Linked DNA regions of Homo sapiens: regions 1 and 2 are each linked to region 3. Evidence: fine-mapped expression QTL. A gene starts in region 3. Each other region holds a variant in brackets. All regions are shown on one strand. Distances are between the middles of the regions.

Region 1 (5,220 bases), 100 kb after region 3:
CTATGTCAAGCTAAACTGGGGTTCATACCAGGGTCTCCAACCATAGCCCATCCCCACTGGGGTCCTTCCAGCTCACTCGGCTTCTGGATGTACGACTCCCACAGGTGGAGGAAGGCCCCCAGAGAAGTCTGCTGAAAATTGTTATTCATGAATGGAGGTTGGACTTCTTCAGATACACTTCCCGAGTCTGTTAACATGGTGATGTGACGTTTGCCCTTCATGTTACTCATAGGGACTATTCTGTTAGCTACCAATTCTGCTGCTTTAAATAAAAACACCATTAAAAAACAAAAAGAAACAAATTGTAATAAAATATTTGCATACATATAAAATCTGAAAGACATATATCAAAATATAAAGGTCCTTCCTTTACAAATCAATAAATATACCTTTTTAAAAAAACAGACAAGACAGACATTAGACAAAAGGTGATACAAGAATGACCAATAAGCAAATTGAAAGCACTCAGTATCCTCGGCCATCAGGAAATGCACATTCATCATAATGGGATGCTGTGTGACGCACGTTGAAATAACTGGATGTGAAGATCCTGGCCCCACCCTGTGCCGGGAGGGTCTGGAACATCTGGAATATTCACGTCGCCGGCGGGGAGGAGGTGCACAGGCACAGGCACTTTGACCATAGCATGGCAGGTCCCCCACAACTATATGTACACCTGCCCTGTGCCCAGCAAAATGTAAATGTCTTCCACAAATAGTCCTGGACAGGGTCTCTCAAAGGGGCTTTAACTGTAACAGCCCACACCTGGAATTGTCCACAGTCCTGGGCGGGGTCACTCATAGTAACAGCCCACACCTGGAATTGTCCACAGTCCTGGGCGGGGTCGCTCACAGTAACAGCCCACACCTGGAATTGTCCACAGTCCTGGGCGGGGTCACTCACAGTAACAGGCCACACCTGGAATTGTCCAGCATTCCTCAACAGGAAACAGTTAAAGAAAGTGTGTCTAACCACACATGGAAGGCCACTGGGCAATGAAAATGCATGAACTTCTGGCGTCCACAATCTAGTGGATGAATCTCAAAAGATACTTCGAGCAAAAACACCGGACAGAAGCGTCCGTGCCAGCCCCGCAGGCTGCCTGTGTGCCAGGCTATCCCGTGCCATCTGATCCGGGAGAAGCAGGACTTTCTTGCACAGGTACTCAGCGCTGTGGCTGTGGGAGGAGCCGGGAGGGCCCTGGCGTGGGTGGGCTTGGGGAAACTGTAGGAGCTGGAAATATTTCATATCTTATTTGGGGTGTTGTTTACAGGGGAACTTGACAAACTCATCTAATGGTACAATCGAGACATCTGTGTAAATAAAGTGTCAAAAATCATCCTGCTGACATCCATGCTCCCCGCCCCACGGCACTTCCCGGCCCTCAGCCCTCCCGTGCGGCTCCTGCCCCCTGGCCAGGGCATCTCCCAGACCAGCGCTAGGCAGCAGGCACTGTCCTAACCCCAGAGCCTGTGGGCCTGGGGCATCAGTGAGGAGGAGGCTGAGGACTGATGGTTTGCAGGTTGCTCCGGGAGACCAGAAACCTGGTGAGGAGAGGCATTAGGAGGTGAGGTAGGAGGCGTTACGAAGGCCCCCGAAAGCTGCCTGTTTGTTTGGTTTTAGTGGGGAGATAGTTTTCCAGTACAGAATTTCTACCAGAGTGCCCCATACATAAAACATAACAATGACATGAGATGCTTTGGGGCAGCCTTGGGGTGGATGGGACCTGTGTCCCCCTCTGCAGTCCTCACAGGCGCCCCACGTGTGGGTCTCACGCTGAGATGCACCGAGCCAGCTGGAAAATGCCGGGTCAGGGGGCTGCTCAGGGGCGGCTTCTCTTTAGGTAAAGTCAGTGAATCCCGATGGCCAAGTGCGAGGCATCGGGGAGATCGCAGAAAGGGTCGAGGGACTCAGGCCCAAGCCTGGGGTGACAAAATCTTATAAGTGGAATCATAGAGTATGTAAGATGGCGTGTGTGTGTGTGTGTGTGTGAGAGAGAGAGAGACAGAGAGGAGAGAGGGGGTCTTGGTAACCTTTAGGTCACATTTGGCAGTTTAAACATAAACCTGCTTCCAAATTAACTGGCTTTGGAGACGTCTG[T/C]GACTCGTGGGCACACCCTGCCCCTGAGTGGAGAATCTCACCATCAGCTTCTCCGGCTGTTGACGCACTGATCGGCACCCACTGACACTGAAAGGATGCCGATTTGTTTCTGAACCGTGAAATGTTGATCTGATTCTGTGTCATGACATTCTGCTGACTTGCTTCTGAATCACGAAGCTTTGCTGGTTTGTTTCGGAATCATGAAGCTTTCTGATTGCCTTGCATGGAGACGTTTTAGCCCTCACGGTATGATCTGTGTGCACTGGCTGTGCCCTCCAACCTGTCCCCCCATGAGAAGGATGCCTCTGTTGTGAGGAGTCCCCTCCCTTCTCCTAAACTTTTCCAGAAAGTCTTCCACCTAGTAGCCGACCCCAGAACATGCTCAGTTCTGTGGGCGTCTTCCCAAGTGGATCCCCATGTTCAGCTTCCAATAAAACTTTATCCAGTCACTTCTGCCTGCACAGCCTTAGTTTCCATCAGAAGTCTACACGTGTGTATGTGTATAGACACACACACACACACGTGCACACGTGCACACACATGCACGTTTTGTGTCTGGCTATTTTCACTTACAATTTTTTTTTTTGTCAGCCTAACAGGTGAATCTGATTTTGATTCTTTAGATGCTGCCTAAGGAAGTTGAAGAAAAAAATTCCTTTTTTTGTAGTAGCTGGATCTGTATCCAAAATTTAACGTATTGTAGCTCTCCTGCTGTGCCAGGCTCAGTTTGTTTTAAAGATTTCCCAGAGGGGACGACTCAGAAAGAGGCTCTGAGGGTGTGGCATCCTCTGCACACTTTGGGTGCCACCAGCTGACGTGTGACTGTGACTTCACGGGTGGTGCCCCGGCCTCATATGCTTCGTGGTTCTCTGTCTCACTCCTGCTCACGGGCGATGCCCTGGCCTCACGTGCCTCGTGGTTCTCTGTCTCACTCCTGCTCACGGGCGGTGCCCCGGCCTCACGTGCCCCGTGGTTCTCTGTCTCTCTCCTGCTCACAGGAAGTGCCCCGGCCTCACGTGCCCCGTGGTTCTCTGTCTCGCTCCTGCTCATGGGCAGTGCCCCGGCCTCACGTGCCCCGTGGTTCTCTGTCTCTCTCCTGCTCACAGGAAGTGCCCCGGCCTCACGTGCCCCGTGGTTCTCTGTCTCTCTCCTGCTCATGGGCAGTGCCCCGGCCTCACGTGCCCCGTGGTTCTCTGTCTCTCTCCTGCTCACAGGCGGTGCCCTGGCCTCACGTGCCCCGTGGTGCTCTGTCTCGCTCCTGCTCATGGGCAGTGCCCCGGCCTCACGTGCCCCGTGGTTCTCTGTCTCTCTCCTGCTCACGGGCGATGCCCTGGCCTCACGTGCCCCGTGGTTCTCTGTCTCTCTGCTGCTCATGGGCAGTGCCCCGGCCTCACGTGCCCCGTGGTTCTCTGTCTCTCTCCTGCTCACAGGCGGTGCCCTGGCCTCACGTGGCCCGTGGTGCTCTGTCTCGCTCCTGCTCACCTGCCGGGCTTTCGTCTCTGCCCAGGGATGAAACCATCATGTGGCTTAATTGATATTTTGTGAAAGCTGCAAATTATGTGTGCAGTCCTGTCAATAATTCCTATTGGCTGACTTTCTCTCTTCTCCAATATTCTACAACCATATGTACAGTCAAAGCTGTCCACCTTTTACATTCATGATTGATGCTCCATAAATATGCTGGCTAGATAAAGCCGCAGCTGTTAGGCAAAGGAAAGAAAGACACATTTATCTGAGACCCAAGGCAGCTGTCAAGCAGTGGGAATGGCCCTGAAGGCCATAAAGAACCCAGAATGACTGACCGGGATCCGGGTGGACAGGAGCGGGGGGGTGGACTCTGACCCCACCCACCCCCACACCTCCTATCCTTGCACTGTTCCGGGGATGAAGTGGATTTTGGGAGCTGGGCATGGGGCACAAACTCTCTCTAACAGCTGTGGTGGAACCAGGGCTCACTGCAAACCCCCTTTCCTGTTGGGACGCCTCATGGGCTGGACCCCATGAGGGCTCTTCAGAAAGGTGAGAACACGCAGTAAGACCTTTCTCCAAAGTTACCAAAGATGACAGCAACCCACGGTTAGCACAATTTTATAAAGACTGAAAACTTGCTGAGCCTGTGTAGTTAATAAGTGGAGACACAAGGCAAAATCCAATGATAAGCAAGTGAAGATCCATCGTTATGCGATGAACAGTATTTCCATGAAGTTCTGCTTAGTGAGAATAGAGATCACATGCTCCCTTCCATTTTTCAAACATTATTTCTTGTTCTTGCGGTCTGGAAGAAAATGACTGAAAGATTACTTTGTTTCTCTTTGATTCACTTTAAAAGATGTGGGAAAGGGAACGCGAGCTGCCCAGCTGCCCGGGAGACCAGGTTACCTTCCTTTACCCCGGAAGGCAGCCTGCCCTGCTACAGCATTGCCTCATGCTCCGATCACCACACACATCAATGGCAGGAGGAGAGGGTCAGGATAACTCGGGACGGACTCCTCCCAGGAGCTCCCTGGGCGAAGGCGGTCCCATCGGGGAAGCGGGATTCCCTCCTCCAGTAGGGAAGAAGCACCCTCAGCAAGGAGACTGCCGAGGCGTGGGGACGCTCTGCTCTGCGTTTGTGGAAACCAGGCACTCGCCTGGCACAGGGTCTCGCACCCCGGTCTCGGTGCAGCCTTGTGTGGTTCTGGTGCTTGGGAGGGCGTGTTCCCCACGTGCCTACTGAGGAGCCGCTCCCTGGCTCAGGGCTCCTCCTCCACCCAACACCAGCATCTCCACATGGTCAGGTGCGGTTTTAAAAGCCGCGTTCTCAAGATATTCTTCACGTATCATGACATGTGCACAGGCAGAGTGCCAATCAAGTCCTTTCAGAGTACTCGGAGATCCAGTCACTGCGTTGGGTGTACTCGGAGATCCAGTTGCTGTGTTGGGTGTACTCGGAGATCCGGTCGATGGCGTTGGGTGTACTCGGAGATCCAGTCGGTGGCGTTGGGTGTACTCGGAGATCCAGTCGGTGGTGTTGGGTGTACTCAGAGATCCAGTTGATGGCATTCATTGTACTCGGAGATCCAGTCGATGGCGTTGGGTGTACTTGGAGATCCAGTCGGTGGCGTTGGGTGTACTTGGAGA
Region 2 (5,220 bases), 27 kb after region 3:
CCCGTCACTGGTGCTGGGCACCACACTTAGGCCTGGCCGTCCTCTGCCCAGGAGAAAAGGGGGAGTGGGTGCTGGGAGTGTGCACAGGTGTGTGTGCAGGGCTGTGGGTGTGCGCACACCTGCGTGTTTAATCATAATACAAAGTGGGCCGGGAACCTCACCCTGAAGTGTGAAGGGCAGTGCGTCATTTAGAATCCTTCTCTTTTTCTCCTTCTTGAGCAGCTGAACGTTGAGAGGGGCCCCGTCTGGTGTGGCCGTGTCTGGTCCCCCATGCAGGCCCTGCACCGTGGACTCCCAACCTGCGGGGATCCGTCCCCAAAGACGCCACTAGTTCTGCCAGCCCAGGGTTTCCTGAGTGTTTCCCGAGAGGCCCTGGTTGCACGGAGTAAGTTCTAGTTTAGTCCTGGTTCGTTCTCCCCAAACGTCTCTCAGGAGCTGTGTTTCTTCTTCATGACCTTCCCCTTAGACCTGTGTCAGATCAGGGTTAGAGGTTGGTCTCCTGGCCTGTGTGGCCACCCTGGCGCCCTCGACGCTCTGCCATGGGCTCCCTTTCTTTCATCGGAGGCAGCATCTGGCCATAGTGAAACTGAGTGTGGGGAGGGGGACGCAGAGCTCCCAGGTCCCAGCCCACAGGTGCCTCGGTGGTGAAATCCCCTGACACACTGAGTGGGGCTTCCAGGACGGGGGACGGAAGGAAAAGGATTAAGGGGTTAGGTAAGTGCAAATATGGCTTTGAAGGTTTAAAATCCTTCACTCATGTTGTGAGGGAAGAACAGGTACTAGACTAGAAGCCATGTCTGGTTGCCCTTGAGGGACCCCTCAGCCAATGTGAAGACGTGTCCAGGCAGCCCTGGGAGACATCCCTGTGGGGGGGCCAGTGCAGGAAACGGACCGCCGGGGGAAGCTCCTGTCATCCCAGGGTGGGCCAGGCTGGGACTACAGTCATGTGCACAGCATGGCTGAGATAATGAGCAAGACTCCAAGGTCCACCCAGGGGCCCGATGGCCTTTAGGGAGACCTAGCACTGTTGCAGGATCAGGAGGACCGGAGAGAGACCTTGGAGTGTACACAGGAGGATATCTTTATCATTGAGTGCACTCAGACCCAGCAGACTCAATGTCCAAAGACTGGGCCCAGAACAAAGACAGCGCCTGACTTTTACACACACTTCACAAAAGGGGGTGGGCTAGCTTGAAGCAAGCTTACAGTGGCGTGAAAGCAGGGATACAGAGGCAGGACAAACTCAGGATTGCACATGACTGTTGCCAAGCAACCCACATGTCCGTTATCTAGGTTAACCTGGGCACGGGCTTATCCCATAACCTTCACTATGTTGCCCAGGTGGCCGTAACTCAGGCCTGCTCAGAGGCTCATGACCTTCACTTTACTGCTTAGATAAAACAATGCTTGAAGTCAATAGTTACAGAGAACAGGAATTTATAAACTCATTCCATAAAACAAAGGAAAATTTGTTTTTCTTCTCCCTATATTGAGGGAGTGCTGGGAGAGTCTCCAGAGCACATTAGATAATATTATTATTAAGACTTTTCCTGGGTTTGGGCTGTGCTTGTTGCTGCCTCTAGGACAAGTTAGCCTAATACGGGAAAGCTTATTTCTCTTTCTTTTTAATTTTATTTTTCTTTAATTTCCCACCTCAACACGACCTGAACGTGGCTTAGTCTGCTGCTGGTGTTTGTGGAGGGCTGAATAGTGTCCTTAGGAAATATGTTCAAGCCCTAACCTGTGAACACAGACATTTTTGGAAATGGGTTATTGCAGATGTTATGCATTAGGATGACCTCATGATGGATTAGGGTGGGCCCTAAATCCAATGACCAGCATGCTTTTAAGAAGGGGAAATGTGTGCACAGACACACAGGGAAGGTACGGTGAAGCCGGAGGGAGAGAAGAAGGGACGCGTCTACACTCCAAGTGCAGAGAGAAAAGGTTCAGGGTTGAGGCTCCTGAAACAAGACGGATTCACCAGAGAAAAGCGAACAAATGTATTTTAGTTTTATGTGACTTGGAGCCTTCGTAAGGAAATGAAGACCCAGAGCCAGGTGGACCTGTGTGTTTGTGCTTTGGCTTGATGAAGAGGGGATGGCCGTGGGGAAACGTGGATGAGGACGGGAGGCTGTGATGTGATGGGTGAACTGGGCACCTCAGCACGGCCTGTGTGCCCGGGGGAGAGGGGATAGGTGAGCAGGGAAATGACTGTGTTGACTATACACAGCCACCACCTAAACCTCAGTGTTTGCTTTGTAATTGAGCTCACGCAAGCAAAGCTATCTCCAGCGGGGACTCTCTTCTAAAGAGCACGCACACTTTAATTTTTACCTGTCCTCGAACCAACCCTTTGTTCATTATAACAGTGAAAAAGATACCCCTGGGTGGAGATGTAAGATGCT[A/C]ATGAGACACACCACCTACAAACAAGCATGTGTGCCGACGACCACCAGACTGTGCTTCCTGATAACACCTCTCCCACTTTCTTTTTTTTTTAAGGTGGGGTCTAGATCTATCCCCAGTCTGGAGTGCAGTGGTGAGATCTCAGCTCACCACAGCCTCTGCCTCCCAGGTTCAAGCGATTCTCCTGCCTCAGCCTCCTGAGTAGCTGGGATTATAGGCATGCGCCACCATGCCCAGCTAATTTTGTATTTTTTTTTAGTAGAGACGAGGTTTCTCCATGTTGGTCAGGCTGGTCTTGAACTCCCGACCTCAGATGATCCACTCGCCTTGGCCTCCCAAAGTGCTGAGATTACAGGCATGAGCCCCCATGCCCGGCTACCTCTCCCATCTTCTTATGGATCATCGGGTGAGACTCCCATAAAGGCAGCCTCCCTATGGCCGGTCTCTGCTGTCTCACCCTCATGACCCACCCTGAGTCCTTTCTCCCTTAGGGTGGCCTGTCTATTCTGCACCTCACTTTCAAAATACTCTTTTTTTTTTTTTTAAAGACAGAGTTTTGCTCTTGTTGCCCAGGCTGGAGTGCAGTGGTATGATCTTGGCTCCCTGCAACCTCTGCCTCCCGGATTTGAGTGATTCTCCCGCCTCAGCCTCCCAAGTAGCTGGGATTACAGGCGCTTGCTACCATGCTTGGCTAATTTTTCTATTTTTATTAGAGATGGGGTTTCACCATATTGGCCAGGCTGGTCTCAAACTCCTGACCTCAAGTAATCCGCCCACCTCGGCCTCCTAAAATGCTAGGATTACAGGCGTGAGCCCCTGCAAAATACTTTTCTTCTTTTGCAATAAGTTACTCTGTGCTGCACTTCTTTTGCAGTGTGTCTCTTGTTTAAATTCTTTTGAACTGAGAAGACGAGAACTGTCATCACGTCAGCTGTCAACACCAGTTCTCTGTGTCCTGTATCTTCAGAGAGAAGGGCGTGTCTTTTCCCCGGGTTTCGGGAGGGCGTCTCACATCAGGGTCTTGGGGACCTGCTGTAGGGGAGAAGGCTGAGGGGAGGTGAGAGAGACCTTCCTGCTTCTGCTGTTTTCACAGTGCCAAGGTGCCATACTTTGGGGTAGCGTGTCCCGAACCCCATCAAAAGCAACACAGAGGGTTGCTGGGGCATGGCCGGGAGCAGATTCCCTTTCACATCTCCGCAGGAACTGACCCTGCCGATGCCTGACCTCAGACTTCCGGTCCCCAGGCTGTCAGACAGATTTCTGTTTTGCTTAGTCGGGCAGACGCTAGGCTCTGTCCCCTACGGTGGCACCATTGGTGCCGCTCATCGGTTCTTTTCAGGCGGCACAAAGTCCTGCACACGTGTGGGCCAGGTCTCCAGGAGATCTAGGCAGAGTGAAATGCAGATTTTGGGGTCCCCTCTGGCTCTGTCCTTTCCAGGAACTCCTCTTTCCTCCCTGGCTGCCACAGTCACCCCGTTGCTCTCTGGGTCCTCATGCCGGAGGGACGGTGGTTTCCTACCCGAGGCTTTGCTCCCCTGCGTGGGCCAGCTGCTCTCGAGTGGAATGCCTTACAAAAGGAAATCTGCCTGGCGCCACGGCTTTCCTCCGAGTACGGACGCCTGTTCAGTCTCTTTCTGCTTCCGGCTGTGCCCGGTACCTTCTGGTGGTTGGTGCCTGTATCTGTCCAGGGGATGTAGGTGGTGTGTTGGACTGACATGAGCTGCTTTGCCATGACTGGAAATGGAGCCTCAGTGTTACTGGAAAAAGGGTCTCAATCAAGACCCCAAGAGAGGGCTTTGGATCTCTCGTGGGAAGAAATTCCAGGCGAGTTGCAGAGTGCAGTGAGAGAAGGAAGTTTATTGAAAACTACTTCATTGCAGATAGGGCACCCTCAGAAAGCAAGAGAAGCAACGCCCCAGCTTTAGGTTTTTCTTATATAGGGGTCTCGTCTGTGGAAAGACCAAGCCAAGCTGTGCCTACATGTAGGTGAGCAGAGAGCATGATATTTTCTTATTCTATGTAAGGAAAACTGTCCTTGACATTTTCGTGTGTGAGTCCATCAAAGCATAACTGGAATGATCTTAACAGCACACATTGCTGGGGTTCTGGACGTCTGGACTCTGTTGTTGGAGGAGTGTGTTTTTGCAGGCGTCACCAAGCTGCCTCTTTAGCTGTGAACATCTTAGGACCGGGGGTCATGACTGTGTCCGGCGAGTGGATTTTAAAATGGTGTGATTCTGGCTCTCCTGGGCTCCTGCCTTCCTAACACCAGGACCTTTCTTTTGATAAGAGGACGTTGCCCTTGCCCTCTCCGGGTCACTGTGAGGACGGGGGTGGACGGAGCTGAGTGCCCAGCAGAGACTTGTCAGAACACGTGGCCTGAAACTCAGCATATGGCCGCCAATTTTGAGCCAATTTTGACCCAAAGCACTTTTGCAAGGAATTGTGTCCTGGAACCTGGTGGCCTGGTTAGGGTTGGCCTGGCCCCTGGTTCTCCCTCTGTGAAGCGGGGATCGAGGGAGCTCAGGGGTTGTGTGTTCAGCACAGAAGCAGGGCCTTGCCTGCAGGAATGCCAGGCTTTATTGCTTTAATTATGATTGTCGATCTAGAAAATAGCACATACAGTGTCGTATCAGTTCTCTCAGGGGTCCCAGAAAAAATGGGTTCTGGGACCAGGTGAGAACCTATTTCTCTCTAACTCTATATTTGTCAAATGTATTTGATAACAGAATGCATCTCTATTTTTGTGAAAATCCAATTAATATCCTGAGACAGATGCCCTGAAAAATGTCTTTGTAAATAGTCTGAGTATTG
Region 3 (5,220 bases):
TTGTTGTCGAGGGAGGCCTGGGAGGGCGTGGATCTCTGGGGCCGCTCCCTTGCCCTCATTGCTGTTGAACTGCTTCTCGGCTTAATCAGATGAGTTGTTAAAACTACCCATCATCAGCATTGTTACCATTGGTTTCATTAGTAATTGTATTTATTTAATTAATTGTTACATTCACTAGTAAAAATGGGAGCTAAGGCAATGCGTGCACTCACCGCTGTGAAGGCAAATGCGGTACTGTGAGTGCTGAATGCACCGCCATGGTCGCGGGAAAGCCCAGGCACAGACACTAGCTCAAAAGCCAAGGGTAGGCCTGGGGTTCACATGCCAAGCAGCAAGCTGAACTCTCACCCTGAGCCCACACCTGAGCCCTCATCTGAGGCTGCACCTGAGCCCACACCTGAGCTCTCATCTGAGGCTGCACCTGAGCCCACACCTGAGCCCTCATCTGAGGTTGCACCTGAGCCCTCCCCTGAGCTCTCGTCTGAGGCTGCACCTGAGCCCACACCTGAGCTCTCGTCTGAGGCTGCACCTGATCCCACACCTGAGCTCTCGTCTGAGGCTGCACCTGAGCCCACACCTGAGCTCTCATCTGAGGTTGCACCTGGGCCCACACTGGAACTTTAACCTGAGCTTACACCTGAGGCTGCACCTAAGCCCTCACCCGAGACTACACCTGAGGCTGCACCTGGGCCCACACCTGAATCCACACTGGAACTTTAACCTGAGCCTACATCTGAGCTCTTGCCTGAGTCTCCTATATGGTTGGAGTGGCCAGGTTGGGCCTAATTAAATATGAGGTAGCAGTAACGACTTTAGGCAACTGAGTTATTAGTAGAGATATTTAATATCAAAGTCAAAGAAGATGAAGGGCAGACACATTTTTAATGTAATTGCTATTAGTTCAGCCAAAGTTGAGGGGACTCAAAGTGTGAATACTTTTCTGACTTAAGGTACATTTCCTAGTGATGGGGGTCAGCTCATCCAGGGTCACATGTGGTTCCTGCTGAAACCAAGTCTGGGGTTCCCTGGGAGGGTCTGGCGAGAACTCTGACAGCAGCTCCCATCACCCTGTGGTGGATAAAGCGAATGCCTCTCTAAGTGTCTGGGGGTGGGGTAGGGTCTGTGCTGATTTATGTAGCTACCTGTTGCAGGGTTGGGTTAGGATCAGGTTGGTTACCCTGGACCCTGGGTATTCAGGTGGACAGGCGGGCCTTGGCCTTGGACAATGGCTAGCTAGGGTGGGCTAGAGCTGCTTCACCCGCAGCTTTGGCGAGGGGAGCGGGAGGCCAGGGAAGTCCCCAGGAGGAGTGGCCACGCTGTGATCCGGGCCCCGGGCTGGCTGGTAGGTGGAGGGTCACACCACCTGGGCCTCAGTGAGGTCCTAGCTGGAGCAGAGGTTCGGGGATCTCCTTCCCTTTCCTTCTGGGGCCTGGGACTTTGTACCTCTGTACAGGAGAGGCAGCAGAGGGCTGGGGTCCTGGCGATGCCTCCACTCTGCCTCCCAGCCTTTGGGGAATGTCTCCACCTGTTATGGCAAGTGTCCCTGTTTGCCTGGGACTTTGGGGGCTAAATTGGAGGCCTTTCTCTTTTTCCCCAAGTTCTCCAGCACACTTAGAAGCATCCGCCCACCCAGCTACACCCCTAAATTTTTCCCTTGATGCCCAGGGCCAGGCATCCTATGGCCATTTGATTACAGATGTCTGCAGGTGGCAATCTGAGTGCCTGTATGCTACTCCTGTGGGCAGCTAGCACCCTGGTACCCCTGGGAACAGAGCGTGAATGCCTTTAAAGCTAGTTGGAGCAGAGAACCAATTCCAGACACCCAGAGACATTTAGATAACTCATTACTAGGGTCCTGGCCCTGGGATCACTCCCAGGACTAGTTCTGTGTCTGTCCAGGTGTGATCCAGGAGTGCAGTGACGGATGTGGATGTGGGATTGGCACAGGACTTCCGCCAGCAGAAGAAAGGAAGGGAGGGGAGGGGAAGAGAGGGCAGGGGAGCAGAGCGGAGGAGAGAGGGGAGCAGTCTTTCCAGCTGGGGCTGGCCTAGGCTGCTGGGTCATTTGGGAAGAAAAGGTGATTTGGACTCAGGGAGACTGAGGGTGCCCTCGGGCCAGCATCTGAGGAGAGTGACAGGGGTTTCCTGGCTCCACAGCCCCAGGTGGCCTTGGTGGGTGCAGGCAGAAAATGACCTTTTCAAGTCCAGTTCCAACCCAGAGGGGGTTCCTAGACCCAGCGCCAATCAAGGGGCACCAGGGAGGCAGCAGAGGTTCCCGCAAATCCAGAGCAGAGTGGCTGCCAGACACCCCACATCCTCTTCGCAGCAGACTGAAGGCCACCCCACACTTGGAGGAGCCCGGGTGAAGCATCTGGGGAAGACCCTCAGCCCTGGGAGAGTCCCTCCAGGGGTGAGCAGGTGGGCTGCCCCTCAGGGTGCGGCTCATTTCGATGTAAGTTTTATAAAATAAGAAAAGGCGCCCTATAGCACCCCTTTGGGAGCCTCGTGTCACCTCCAAACATATACCTCGCTTCCAGGTCAGAAGTAGTGAAATGACCATTGCCAATGCAAATGGAACTGCCTTAGGACACATGGGGGAGGTTAGGGCCTGCTGTGGGGCCTTATGGTGGGCCCCGAGGGGCCCCGCACACCTGTGCTCACCTCCCAGGTCATCGCTGGGCCGCCTCTGTCCCCTGGGAGGCTCTGCCTCGGGGAGCCCTCTTCCCAAGCTCCCAGCAATGACTTCCAGGCCTCCCTCAGCATCAAGAGGAGCCACGTCTTCTTCTTGTGACCCAGCAGTATAATTCACCCTAAATAATGGCAGAATGGGTTGTGTGTAGTCTTTAAAAGTCAAAACAATTTTGCACACAACAGGAGTCATTCAGCAGTGGCTAACACTCTCCTGACCTGTGTCGGCGCTGGGCTCCAAGGTGTACCTCCGCACGCATGGGGTTAACTACGCCCCCATGACCATTCCCTGCAGGAGGGGCGGGACAGAGGACTGCGTTATGTTTCTCCTAAAAGAAAATCATGAAAGTCACACACTCCAGGTGCCACACTTATTATGGAGGGAGGGAAAGCAGATGAGCGGGCGGGAAAACTAGCGGGCTTGCCACGCCCAGGCAGCGCTGCTCGGGTTTCCGCTTCCTCCGCCCCTTCCTTTTTCTCTGTGCATCCTCAGTGACGCGGGGCACAGCTCTGCCCGGGGGCCTACCAGAGCCCACCTGGACCCCACACTGGGTCAGCCCTGGTGCGGAGGAGGCCGCTGTAGGTGGGCACGGGGCAGCACGCGTTAAGGGGCTGGACGGGGGGTGGCCATGCGTGTGAGGGCGCTGAGCAGGGGCGTGCCCATACGTGTGAGGGGGCTGGGTAGGGGCGTGGCCCAGCGTGTGTGTGTGTGTGTGTGTGTGTGTGTGTGTGTGTGTGTGTGTGTGGCTGGACAGGGGTGTGGCCACGCGCGAGGGGGCCGTGCAGGGGGCGTGGCCACGAGCGAGGAGACTAAGGGGCGTGGTCACGCGTGTGAGGGGCTGGGCTAGAGGAGTGGCCCTGTGTGCGGGGGCTGGACGGGGGCGTGGTCATGTGCGAGGAGGCTGAACAGGGGGCGTGACCACGTGTGGAAGGGGGCTGATCGGAGGTGTGGCCACATGTAAGGGGGCTGGGCAGGGGGTGTGGCCACGTGTGAGGGGGGGCTGGGCCGGGGCGTGGCCACACGTGTGCTGGCTCTGCTGTGGGCTTCCTTCCCTTCCTGTGCAGGTGGTGGTGCCCTCTGCGCCTTCACTGGGGCCCAGCCAAGTAACTGAATCCAGCCAGGAGCAAGGGCAGACGCTGGCACAGGTCCTGCCACTGTCCCCAACCTGGGTTTCAACACAGCTGAGGCCTGGCATAGTCTTTCTGGGCGCCTCTGGCTGGCTCGGTCTGAAAGGTGGGACAGATGCAACTGGGGCCTCCCCGGGTGCAGCGTGGGTGGCTCCTGGCTGGGGAAGTGAGAAGCCCTCCGTGCGGTGTCTCTGAAGCAGCCCCAGGCCAAGGCTGTGGCGTGCTTGGTGGTGCTGTAGGCCCAAGATGTTTATGGGTCGAGGGTCCCCGGGGCCGGGATTCTGATCCCTGGTGAGAGGTGGCTGGGAGGAAGTCCAGACGTGTCCTGAGTGGCCATTCCTCACACTGAGGTGACACCGCCTCTCCAAACACGTGACGTGGCTGGAAGCAGATGCTGCTGTCCGGTTCTCCCTCCTCTCCGTCCCTGGCTGGGACATGTGGATCTCACCCGCAGCCACTTTCTTCTGGCCTCTGTCCCCCTGCCTGGGACACGTGGACCTCACCCCCAGTCTCCTTCTCTCCTCTGCCCCCCGCAGGCGCGGCCAGGTCACAGTCGGCACCAGAAGTTTGGCAGATCTCAGTGAGGCGTTAGTTTGCATTTCCTTGTGACGGGTGAGTTGAACACCCTTTCATGAGTGTATTGATCACTGTGTACCTTCTTTGTTGAAATGTCGTCAGTATTTAAAGTCACAAATCTTCCTCTAAGACTATGCTACAATTTTTGTGTAATATTTTGATGGATATTTGAAATAAGTGCTAATTTTCTTTGGATTTCTTCTTTGACCCATGCTTTATTTAGAAGAATCTCTTTATGTGTGTATTTATTTTTTAAACCCTCTATTCTGAGAAGCATATTTAGAAGAGTATTGCCCACTTTCCAAATATGTGGAGAGTCTAAAAGGAATCTTGCTATTACTGATTTAATTCCATTTTGATCAAGGAACAAACTGCAGGATCTCACTTTTTAAAATTACAGAGACTTATTCTTACTGTTTAACATAAGCCCTATCTTTGTAAATGCTCCGTATACACTCAAAAATTACTTGTGTTCTGCAGCTGTGGGGTGGGATGCTCGCCAAGAGTTAATGAGGTGCAGCTGGTTGACAGTGCTCTTTAAACCGGCGAATCCTTCCTGTCCCACCCGCTGTGCTTGCAGTCCCGAGAGAGCTGTTACATCTCCAACTAGGACAGTGAATTTCTCTATTCTTTCAGTTCCGTCCGTTTTTACTTCGTGTTTTTTGAAACTGTTATTATCTTTTTAGGCATTTAGGATTTTTCTGTGATCCTGACAGTGGCTGACCATGGTGTCATCATGGAATGTCCCTCTTTATCTTCAGGGGTGCTACCTGGTCTAATGTGAGTGTTCCAGGGCTATTTTCTTATGCACAGAATTGGCACTGTGTAT

What was found. PIP is the estimated chance that this variant, and not a neighbour inherited with it, causes the effect.
Region 1: its variant is the best candidate, but not a certain one, in a credible set for the expression of LINC01237 in monocytes after R848 (Quach 2016, PIP 0.83).
Region 2: its variant is the best candidate, but not a certain one, in a credible set for the expression of LINC01237 in whole blood (TOPMed, PIP 0.90).

Annotation. Positions count from the first base shown.
Region 1 is chr2:241,982,307-241,987,526 of GRCh38, forward strand. The region is part of intron 3 of LINC01237 (long intergenic non-protein coding RNA 1237); the gene reads left to right. Among named protein-coding and RNA genes, the nearest start is that of LINC01238, 14 kb to the left of the region's middle. RefSeq lists an enhancer at 2,700-3,236. The variant T/C (reference allele first, on the strand shown) is at 2,101.
Region 2 is chr2:241,905,233-241,910,452 of GRCh38, forward strand. The region is part of intron 2 of LINC01237 (long intergenic non-protein coding RNA 1237); the gene reads left to right. Among named protein-coding and RNA genes, the nearest start is that of FAM240C, 7.4 kb to the left of the region's middle. The variant A/C (reference allele first, on the strand shown) is at 2,409.
Region 3 is chr2:241,878,209-241,883,428 of GRCh38, forward strand. LINC01237 (long intergenic non-protein coding RNA 1237) reads left to right here and starts at 3,155. Exons shown (of 4, transcript NR_110220.1): 1 at 3,155-3,270; 2 at 4,352-4,427. LOC105373978 (a long non-coding RNA gene) reads right to left here and starts at 3,119. Exons shown (of 3, transcript XR_924077.3): 1 at 2,907-3,119; 2 at 2,661-2,809; 3 at 826-1,068. RefSeq lists an enhancer at 2,585-3,175.